Linked DNA regions of Homo sapiens. The protein of the gene in region 1 purifies or fractionates together with the protein of each later gene. This does not show direct contact. Each region holds a gene or a part of one and is shown in the gene's direction. Other genes may lie near its edges. The genes, in order: EDIL3, TF and ITGAV.

Evidence for each region.
Region 2: the proteins of EDIL3 (region 1) and TF purify together in Homo sapiens (affinity purification with mass spectrometry; 2 studies listed by BioGRID and IntAct, with this or other methods). This does not show direct contact.
Region 3: the proteins of EDIL3 (region 1) and ITGAV purify together in Homo sapiens (co-immunoprecipitation; 2 studies listed by BioGRID and IntAct, with this or other methods). This does not show direct contact.

What each region holds. Positions count from the first base shown.
Region 1 is NC_000005.10:83,940,825-83,944,479, reverse strand, and holds part of EDIL3 (EGF-like repeat and discoidin I-like domain-containing protein 3 isoform 1 precursor), read left to right. Parts: intron 1-911; coding exon 912-1,061; 3' UTR 1,062-3,655. UniProt on the Homo sapiens protein: Promotes adhesion of endothelial cells through interaction with the alpha-v/beta-3 integrin receptor. Inhibits formation of vascular-like structures. May be involved in regulation of vascular morphogenesis of remodeling in embryonic development.
Region 2 is NC_000003.12:133,749,293-133,752,947, forward strand, and holds part of TF (serotransferrin isoform 1 precursor), read left to right. Parts: intron 1-3,655. UniProt on the Homo sapiens protein: Transferrins are iron binding transport proteins which can bind two Fe(3+) ions in association with the binding of an anion, usually bicarbonate.
Region 3 is NC_000002.12:186,634,930-186,638,584, forward strand, and holds part of ITGAV (integrin alpha-V isoform 1 preproprotein), read left to right. Parts: intron 1-1,152; coding exon 1,153-1,278; intron 1,279-2,135; coding exon 2,136-2,180; intron 2,181-3,347; coding exon 3,348-3,391; intron 3,392-3,479; coding exon 3,480-3,536; intron 3,537-3,655.

The sequences.
Region 1 (3,655 bases):
TTTGTCCAAGTTATTATGAAAGTCTTTTGGGGAAGAGCAAGTGGCCATAGTAATAGTAAAGCTCCAAAAAAAAAAAAAAAAAAGCATTTTTACAAAAGAAGAAAGAAGAATAGACGTGCAATGCAAAGGGTCAGGATATTATAAGTCATATTCATCCCAATAGTATTGTATGGATCCAGGAATTAATAGATGAAGCCAAAAAAGAAGAGAAAAACAGTTCAAAAACAGCATTGATTGTGTTGTCTCATTTGGAGATGGGCTAGTTTTATTCTCTATGTGAGAAGAAGTGGGCAAAAGGCACTGTGATAGAGGCCGTTAGTGCTCACCAGATAGCCTTGTGCTTCTCTCCAGTGCCCAGCCTCCTTTGCTGTTAGGCTGGAGTCATATAATTAGGTAAGGTGAAACAGATATATACAGAAGTGATATAAGCTGCTTCCATGCTTGTTCTCTTAAACACTCTGCACAGTCTGCTAACTCTCCCTCCCCTTGCCCCTTGTGAATGTGGAGGCCGCCTGCTCCAGATGATAGCTGTACTTTGCAAGCAGCTTGGATCTCTGAGTCACCCCGTGGAAGAGAGCATCTTCAGCAAGCTACATGACTAACGTCAGCCTGTGACATAAGCAAAAAATGAATACCTGTTGTATTTTTTTTAATTGAGAGAAACAAGTAGAGGAAAATGATAGACCTATGAATGTCTGCATTAAACAATAAAGGTTTAACTCTTTAAACATTAATTGACCATTTAATTTAAAATAATTATTATTAAAAAGAAGCTGCAATATATTTTGAAGAAAAGAAAATGAATAGTTATCAAATATCATGTTTGGGGAAAATGTTCCAAACAGGAACATAAAAATAATTTCAAAGAAAGAAGGCTGTGTGACTGACATTTTTCTGCTCTTCTTTATTAGGTTTTCCAGGGAAATTTTGACAATGACACTCACAGAAAAAATGTCATCGACCCTCCCATCTATGCACGACACATAAGAATCCTTCCTTGGTCCTGGTACGGGAGGATCACATTGCGGTCAGAGCTGCTGGGCTGCACAGAGGAGGAATGAGGGGAGGCTACATTTCACAACCCTCTTCCCTATTTCCCTAAAAGTATCTCCATGGAATGAACTGTGCAAAATCTGTAGGAAACTGAATGGTTTTTTTTTTTTTTTCATGAAAAAGTGCTCAAATTATGGTAGGCAACTAACGGTGTTTTTAAGGGGGTCTAAGCCTGCCTTTTCAATGATTTAATTTGATTTTATTTTATCCGTCAAATCTCTTAAGTAACAACACATTAAGTGTGAATTACTTTTCTCTCATTGTTTCCTGAATTATTCGCATTGGTAGAAATATATTAGGGAAAGAAAGTAGCCTTCTTTTTATAGCAAGAGTAAAAAAGTCTCAAAGTCATCAAATAAGAGCAAGAGTTGATAGAGCTTTTACAATCAATACTCACCTAATTCTGATAAAAGGAATACTGCAATGTTAGCAATAAGTTTTTTTCTTCTGTAATGACTCTACGTTATCCTGTTTCCCTGTGCCTACCAAACACTGTCAATGTTTATTACAAAATTTTAAAGAAGAATATGTAACATGCAGTACTGATATTATAATTCTCATTTTACTTTCATTATTTCTAATAAGAGATTATGTGACTTCTTTTTCTTTTAGTTCTATTCTACATTCTTAATATTGTATATTACCTGAATAATTCAATTTTTTTCTAATTGAATTTCCTATTAGTTGACTAAAAGAAGTGTCATGTTTACTCATATATGTAGAACATGACTGCCTATCAGTAGATTGATCTGTATTTAATATTCGTTAATTAAATCTGCAGTTTTATTTTTGAAGGAAGCCATAACTATTTAATTTCCAAATAATTGCTTCATAAAGAATCCCATACTCTCAGTTTGCACAAAAGAACAAAAAATATATATGTCTCTTTAAATTTAAATCTTCATTTAGATGGTAATTACATATCCTTATATTTACTTTAAAAAATCGGCTTATTTGTTTATTTTATAAAAAATTTAGCAAAGAAATATTAATATAGTGCTGCATAGTTTGGCCAAGCATACTCATCATTTCTTTGTTCAGCTCCACATTTCCTGTGAAACTAACATCTTATTGAGATTTGAAACTGGTGGTAGTTTCCCAGGAAGGCACAGGTGGAGTTATTTGTGAGAAGCAAAGTGTTTACTAATGACAAAGTAGTAAACCATTTTCAAGATGAAAACTGATTTCTATTTATTTTGCTTCAAAGGTCCTGAAAAAATAAGCAATTATCATAACAATTTGTTATTGATACTGGAGGTTTCATTGACATGTCTCTCAAATTAAAGCTCACACTGCCTCCATAAAAGTCTTCAACATCTAATTTATAAGCTTTACAAGTATTTATTTTATAAGGCTTAGACAGAATTATTGGAGTTTTAAATTAAGTGTATTGGAAAAGAAAGGATGGTATGTGTATGAAATGTTAAGATCCTACGCAACACTGCTATTTTTTTCCTTTAATATTTGTGCTGCATAACAAAAGCCACTAGACTGTTACTGTCTTGTCTGTCCATGTGTTAACAGCATTTCTTAATGATGTATATATGGAGTGGTCTTCAATCATAGTGAAGAATTTAAAGAGAAAGTCAATTGTATTGGCATTTTTAATAAGAACAAAATTAGTTCGTCTAAGGGGACTGGCTGGCCACATATTTGTTCCTTGCCCATATGCTTTCTACTTCTTGTTCTTATTATGAAATTATGAATTTGAAGCCTCTGAAATGGTGATCAGTTTTCAACATCTTTCAAAAACAAAATTACTATTTCCTCCATATTGCCTTTTTTAGATAACTTTAAAGTTAGGATTTTAAAATATTTGTAACTGGCTAAATTTTAAAGTCGTGACAAATAATTACTTAGGTTCAGAAATATACACACACTTACTCTTTAGCCAGTTTCTTTCAAGGTTTACTGTCCCATCAGATATCTAGCCATTTTCCTTTGCAAATTACATACCTTCTTAAGAGTGTATTTTTAAGATTATTACTTACGCTTTATGATGATATAGTTTTTCAAAATTATTTATAGCTTCATATGATGTTTTGTAATTTTTTCTATTGATACCTGTTTTAAAAATATTTTCCAAGGAAGTTGATTAAAATTATATTTGTTACCTTTTAGAAAAAGCATTGAAATGAGTTTCTCTTGCTTTTTCATTTTCCCTCTGCTTTATATGCTCTTCGCAATACATCATGTCCAACGGGATACCTATTGTTCTCATGACACCCAAAATTGATGAGAGCAAAGGGGTCGCACCATATGGAAATGTTGAAAACTATTGTAAAGTAGTATTATGAAGTAGCTTTTGTGTCATTCATGTCGATGACATGAAAGTGAAGTAAATTTATTCTATGTAAATTCACACTAAAACCAGTACAGTACCATAAGTAGAATACATGTAAGAATCACCTAGTCTTCACTATATTGAGTAAATATAACATGCTAATTTTACAATTAATGAAACTAAACTTTTAAACATCTCCATTATATCTACATCCTTTTGAAGGTATTTATCATAGTTGCCAATTTTAATTTTAGGATTGACTTTCTCTTTCTGAATGACTTCATAAAGTTTGGTGTGAATTTTGAAGACTTGGGTTAC
Region 2 (3,655 bases), on another chromosome or scaffold:
CAGCTGATCTTTTTGTTCTTAGGTCTACAAAAATGCTCTTCATTCTTTCAACGTTGCCCCTGCCCATCTGTACATGTCAGATCCTGTGCTGGGCAATGGGGCTGCAGTGGTGAATTAAACACATTGGTCCTTACCCTCAGGGAGCTCATGGGCTAGTCAGGAGAGCAGAAAAACACACGAATAAGTAAACTACTAATTCCAAAATGTGGGGATGTACAATGGAGGGAAAAAGGAGAGTGTTCTGACAGGGACTCACAGAAAAACCTGCTTTGTCCTGGGTGGTCAGAGACCATCTCTCTGAGAGAGATGTAATGAAGGACTGAGCCTGGGTGGGCTCCAGTGTAAAATACACCAGGCAGCAAACAAGAGCATATGCAAAGGGCCTGAGGCAGAGCAGAGTGGGCTTATTTAAGTTGCTAGTGGGAGGCCAGGGTGATGGGAGCTGTCAAAGATAAGCACAGCCAGATATTAGTTTAGGCAGTGACAATAGGTTTCATTCAGTAACTGCTGACAGTGGGGGAAAGAGCTAGGCTCCATTCTGATTTGTGCAGTGGTGATGTGAGCATTTTAAAGGGAGAATGAGGGAGGGGAGAACGCAGGGCTCTGTAGAGTCAGAGAAGTAAAAAGGTAGAAAGGGCTGGTCAGTGTAAATGTGAGGAGGCCAGCTGTGTCTGATAGCTGGCAGTTCTCTCGATTAGGACTCTATTCTCCCGCAGAGACTGCGAGACAGACACTCTATCCATCCTGATGATTGTGTTGCAAAGGAATGGCTCTCAGTCCTTGAGAGAGATGCTTGTGAGTTTCAAGAGATACATATTCACAGTTTTAAGTCCTTTTTAGTAAATTCTCTTGGAAAGGGAGGTCAGGGGCCTATCATCAGTTGTGTGTTGAGTAGAAGAAACAGGTACATTTTCCTGGCAGCACTGAGTTTTCTCAGGCAAGCACTTTAAGGGGAACCGGGCCATCCTAGGGACACAGATTTGTTCTGCTAGGAGCCATGCCAGAGTCTGGTCAGGTCTCTTAGTGCAGAGGTTTGGACAGATGTGTCAAGTGTGGGAAATTCTACAGTTCTCAGCACAAAGCAAGCAGTAGGTTAGCCGAAGGGAAAAGGTGGAAGAAACATCCAGATGCAGCCTGGCTTCCCTCAATCCCCGCGCTGGGGTTTTCCGTGTCTTTCTGCTGGCTTCCCCTTGGCTTCCCTCCAGCCTTCTCTCTGTAGCTTTCCCTCTTCTGGGTTTGGTTATTTTGACTTGTGAGAGCTTGCTTGATTATAATCCTGTCCCTCCCAGCTGGCGCAGGTTCCCCTGGGAACCCTGCAGCTCTAGGGCTGGACGCTGTGTTTTAGGCCTTAGCTCTTTGGCTCCCTGAGCCCCCGAGGCACCAGTGATTTCTTGGTGTCTTGGCAAAGAAAGACCAGGTTCCTGACCACTCTCCCAACCCCACTGCAATGGGCAAAGCTCTCGTTTGTTTGCTTCATTTTTTAAAAAATATATATATATTTTATTATACTTTAAGTTCTAGGGTACAAGTGCACAACATGCAGGTTTGTTACATATGTACACATGTGCCATGTTGGTGTGCTGCACCCTGTTTGCTTCATTTTTATTCAACAATGTGAGGACTGGGGAAGGGAAGGTGTTTGCAGATTAAACAAAACCACGAAGTGTGTTTCATATATAAGGTCTAGTTGTTGTGGAACAGAAAGGCCCATGATGTCTGTTAATTTTGTTTTGTATTGTGGTATATTAAAAATATGTTTTACAACCCAAATATCCATTGATGAGTGAATAGATAAATAAAATGTGGTAAACACAAATGATGAAATATTTTTAGCCTTAAAAATAAATGAAACTCTGATATATGCTACACTGAGATGAACCTTGAAAACATAAGTGAAGCAAGCTAGATACAAAAGGACAAATATTGTAAGATTCCACTTTTTTTTTTTTTTTTTTTTTGAGACGGAGTTTCGCTCTGTCGCCCAGGCTGGAGTGCAGTGGCGCGATCTCGACTCACTGCAAGCTCCGCCTCCCGGGTTCACGCCATTCTCCTGCCTCAGCCTCCCGTGTAGCTGGGACTACAGGCGCGCGCCACCATGCCCGGCTAATTTTTGTATTTTTAGTAGAGACGGGGTTTCACCGTGTTAGCCAGTATGGTCTCGATCTCCTGACCTCGTGATCCGCCCGTCTCGGCCTCCCAAAGTTCCACTTTTATGAAGTATCTAGAATAGTCAAATTTATAGAAACAGAAAGTAGCATAATGACTACCAGGGGCTGGAGTGGGGGAGAAATAGGAGGTAATTGTTTAATGTGTAAAGAGTTTCAGTTTCTGGAGATGGATAGATGTGATGGCTATAAAACAACGTGAATGCATGTACTTAATGCCACTAAAATGTACACTTGAAAATGGTTAAAATTGGCTGGGTGCGGTGGCTCACGCCTGTAATCCCAGCACTTTGGGAGGCCGAGGCGGGTGGATCACCTGAGGTCAGGAGTTTGAGACCAGCCTGGCCAACATGGTGAAACCCCATCTCTACTAAAAAAAATACAAAAATTAGCCGGGTGTGATGGCAGGCGCCTTAATCCCAGCTACTTGGGAGGCAGAGGCAGGAGAATCGTTTGAACCCTGGAGGCAGAGGTTACAGTGAGCCGAGATTGAGCCATTGCACTCAAGCCTGAGGGACAAGAGCGAGACTGCTGATATAGTTTGTCTTACAACATATTTTATTTCATTTAGAAATACTATTGTCTTATTACTTGATTGTAACACAACAAAGTTCATGGAACTATAGCTTTTGCTTTGTAATTTTTTTTTTTTTTTTTGAGAGTCTTGCTCTGTCACCTAGGCTAGAGTGCAGTGGTACAATCTCGGCTCACTGCAACCTCTGCATCCCAGGTTCAAGCGATTCTCCTGCCTCAGCTTCCCAAGTGGCTGGTATTACAGGCATGTGCCACCAAGCCCAGCTAATTTTTGTTTGTTTGTTTTGGTAGAGACAGTGTTTCACCATATTGGCTAGGCTGGTCTCGAACTCCTAACCTCAGGTGATCCACTTGCCTAGGCTTCCCAAAGTGCTGGAAGTACAAGGTATGAGCCACTATACCTGGCCTGCTTTGTAATTTGATCAATAAGAAATCTTCATAGAGAACTGGCAAGGGCTTCTGGAAAAATCATTTTGATTAAAGACATTTAAAACAAAAAAGGAGTAAAACTATGTGTTTAAGTGTCTAAATAAAAGATGGTTGGGCTCACTTTAAGGATTTACATAAAAAGAAAATAAATTATAGATCTAGTAAGAAGGCAGCTATAATATTTCAAGGGACCTGTTGATGTAAAGATGAGGGCTTACAGAAGCACAAAGTCAAAAAGGAACATAACCTGAAGTAACAGTGTAATGATAAGAAATAAACCCGGAATGTCTGCACTGAAATCCCAGCTCCATGACTTACTGGCTATGTGGCCCAGGGAAGTGACTTAACCTTTCTGTGCCTCATATTTCTCACTTGTAAAATGGAGCTGAGAGAGAAAGAGAGATGAGCTGCCCATGTGTTGGAGTAGACAATTATACCAGAGATGAGCAAAAATGGAAATAATAATCAAGCTTTTGATCATTCAGTACATAGTATCACCAAGAAGCTAAACCCAGAGAAAGTGCCCA
Region 3 (3,655 bases), on another chromosome or scaffold:
CTCAGTTAGGACTACTTGTTAACTCTGTCTTTTTAAGAGATACAGCTGTGAAAATGTATGACCTTTTTTTTTAATGCCATGGGTATTGCATAAATAGGAATAATAATAAATAGGAATGTGTAATAATTAGGACACAGTAATAAATTAGGACAGAGAGGTACTATTAATATTATATTTATTAGAATTTTATTACAAGTTGTCTGTAATATATAGCTAGCAGACTCAGTGAATTGGCAAATAGTATTTTGTTTTAATAAGATTAAAATCAGCAGATGTCACCCTGGATAAGTACGTTAGAATGAATTTTTTCACAGATCTCAGAATTGTCGTTGTTAGAATGGAGAAAAGAATAATGTTTTATTCAGAAGAAATAATGAATTTTCCTCTGTTCTTCAATTCAGGAAATGTTTATTGAATTTCATATGTTCTTGGTACCGCTGAAGCCCAGATGATAAAGTAGTGACCTGGACAGAGAAAGTGCTTCTGTGCTGTAGATCCAGTCTCTGTGACTGAACAGATGGGAACAGGACTGAAAATGTTAGCTGTTACACATTTCTTTCTAAAACAGCAGAAATGATAAGAGATTACTGTGTCCATATTGTGGAGACAACACTTGATAAACCAGCTATCCTTTCTTGGCATGGAGGGCAGGCTGATTTTTGTGTAGTCATCTAGATTTCTTGTCTGCTTAATAACAAGGTTGTGAACAAAGGTGAACTCATCCATTCAGGTTGTTTCCTAAAGATGTTTAAATTACTAGTTAAAAAATATCAATTGAACCAATTATTCTGATTATAAAAGTAACAGTATTGTTTCAGTAAATTTTTCATGTTTTAATGGATTAGTTGGGTGATAGCCTTTGATTTTATTATTCCGTGTATTTAACATTGCTTTCTAGTGATTTAAGACAAGTCCTGTTTTCTTAAATTTTTATTAGCAGAGACTACTTTTAAGTACTGGCTTAAACAGAAATAATTTTAAGTTAAGAATATCCATTTTCAAATTGAGTATGATCAAGGAGAGTTATGTACGGCTAATAATTAGAAGTACTAATATCTAATATTGTTTTCCTTCATGCAGGTACCATACATTATCTGTATCATAAAGTTTCCATTTGAAGGTTATTTATTTTATATATACACCCTTTTTTAGGTCAGCTTATTTCGGATCAAGTGGCAGAAATCGTATCTAAATACGACCCCAATGTTTACAGCATCAAGTATAATAACCAATTAGCAACTCGGACTGCACAAGCTATTTTTGATGACAGCTATTTGGGTAGGTAAAACCAAAATTTACTCATTTTTGGAACTGTGGTACATATATCTTATATCTGAGTATGGTCTTTTAAGTAGAAAAATATTTTATGTGAAATAGATTAGGATTTTTTGAAACATACAGAATATACAATTTCAAATTGTTAATGAGTACTTTGGTTATGTTACGTTTCAGTAATTGAAATTGAAGACAGTGATTATTTGTGCAGTGATAATAATAATAGCTAGCCTTTAAGATATGCTTACTGTGTTCTGGGCATTGTTCAAGGTGACTTGGTTTGTATTCACTCATTTAATCCTCACAAGTCAAGCATACTGTATTATTCTCATTTTGTAGGTGAAAACACTGAGGCACTGAGACGCAAAATAACTTGCCCAAAGTCACTCGCTTGTAACTTGCTGTTCAGAGATTCAAATGGAGACAGTCTAACTCCTGAAGTTTTCTTCATGATGTTAAATAAAAGTTTTGGTCTTTAGGACTTATTAACATGTGTTCTCTCTTTCAATTTCTTTATGATATATTAAAACAAGTCATATATGACAGAAATAGTACTTGCTGATTGAGAGAATTTATTTGTTCTTTATGATGAGTTGTAAATTTGGTGTTTTTAACAGACTCCTTTGTAAAGTTAATAAGACAATTGTAGTTTTGTAATAAAAATAGACTATTTGAGTATTTAACTCAGTTTCATTTAAAATTCATATGTCATATATATATGAATCTGTTATGACTAGGGGACAAAATATTGCATAAGTAAAGGAGTTTCTTGAAAATATTTTCAAGGAATGCTTACTCAGCAAGCCTGCTGAAGATAACGTCCTTGTCCTGATGGTTCTCCCCTTTGGTTTCCTGTTTAGGTTATTCTGTGGCTGTCGGAGATTTCAATGGTGATGGCATAGATGGTATGAAGTACTTGAACTATATCTAATCTTTAAAAAAATTAGATTAAGTATTTGAAACATGTGGCATTGAAAATTTTAAGCAGTTTGAGTGGCTGGGTGCTGTGGCTGCAGCCTGTAATCTCAGCACTTTGGGAGGCTGAGGCGGGTGGATCCCTTGAGCCCTGGAGTTCAAGAACAGTCTGGACAACATGGCAAAACCCTGCCTCTAGAAAAAACACAAAAATTAGCCGGGCGCGGTGATGCACACCAGTGTCTAGCTTCTCAGGAGGCTGAGGTGGGAGGATCTCCAGAGCCCAGGGAGGTTGAGGCTGCTGTGAGTTGTGATTGCGCCACTGCACTCCCGCCCGGGCGACAGAGCCGAGACCCTGTCTCAAAAAAAAAAAAAAAAAAGGAAAAGAAAATAAAATTTTAAGCAATTTTAAACCATTGTTATGGAATATAACAGAAGAAATGAGGAAGATGTTAGCACACTGGTGAGAGTCCAGGCTAGGTCTGTGCTGAACTTCCTCTAGTGGCTGCTGAAATTGAGACAGCTACACTTGGCTTCAGTGCCTTTCCTTTCTGCTTCTTTTTAGCCCCCAACACTGTTAGTGATTTCCTTAGCATTTTCCTCCTTGTCTTCAGCAAATTCATTCCTCTGGGAGGAAGAATTAGTGTCTTCTTTCTTTAGGCATCCTTTGTTACCTTCTGGGCCATCTCTGTACGGTTATTACCCCATCCTCTCATTGTCCATCCATCTTCCTTCAGAGCTCCGTTTAGGAATCACAGTCTTTACCTGATTTTGATCACATTTTTGTGCCACAGCCACTTCTACCCCACTTCAGTTTGCTCTGTATTATTTTTCATTACTGTACTACTAAACTAAATGTAGTTTTTCTTCATTCTTAGGTTACTTTATCTTGTCTATTCTTGTTTAACAATATTACAAATGACTTGAGGGCTTATTTGCATATGTTTGAGAGCCCTCCAGAATTTGTATTTTGTAAATTTTGATTTTATAGTTTAAAAATGCTGGGCTATTTATTACGGAGTACCAATTTTTCTAAATTGATTGTTTGTTTTGAACTGAAGTAGTAAAACTTAAAGCTTGCTGACATAGTCACTTCTGGTCTGCAACTTCCAGTGTTGTCCTAAAAAATGAATAATTTGTTTGTTTGTTTGTTTCAGACTTTGTTTCAGGAGTTCCAAGAGCAGCAAGGACTTTGGGAATGGTAGGACAGTTAAAAGGTATTTTTTAAAAAATCTCTAAGTTATCTTCTATTTTACCAGATTTCACATACTTCTATTTTTCCTTCACAGGTTTATATTTATGATGGGAAGAACATGTCCTCCTTATACAATTTTACTGGCGAGCAGGTATGCTTCCAAAATATGATCGTCCTCTCCCACTATAAAAGCAGTATGTACTCATTGGAGAAAATTTGCGAAATAAAACTGTAAAAATGAACTATAATCTCATCAAATAGATAATTCTT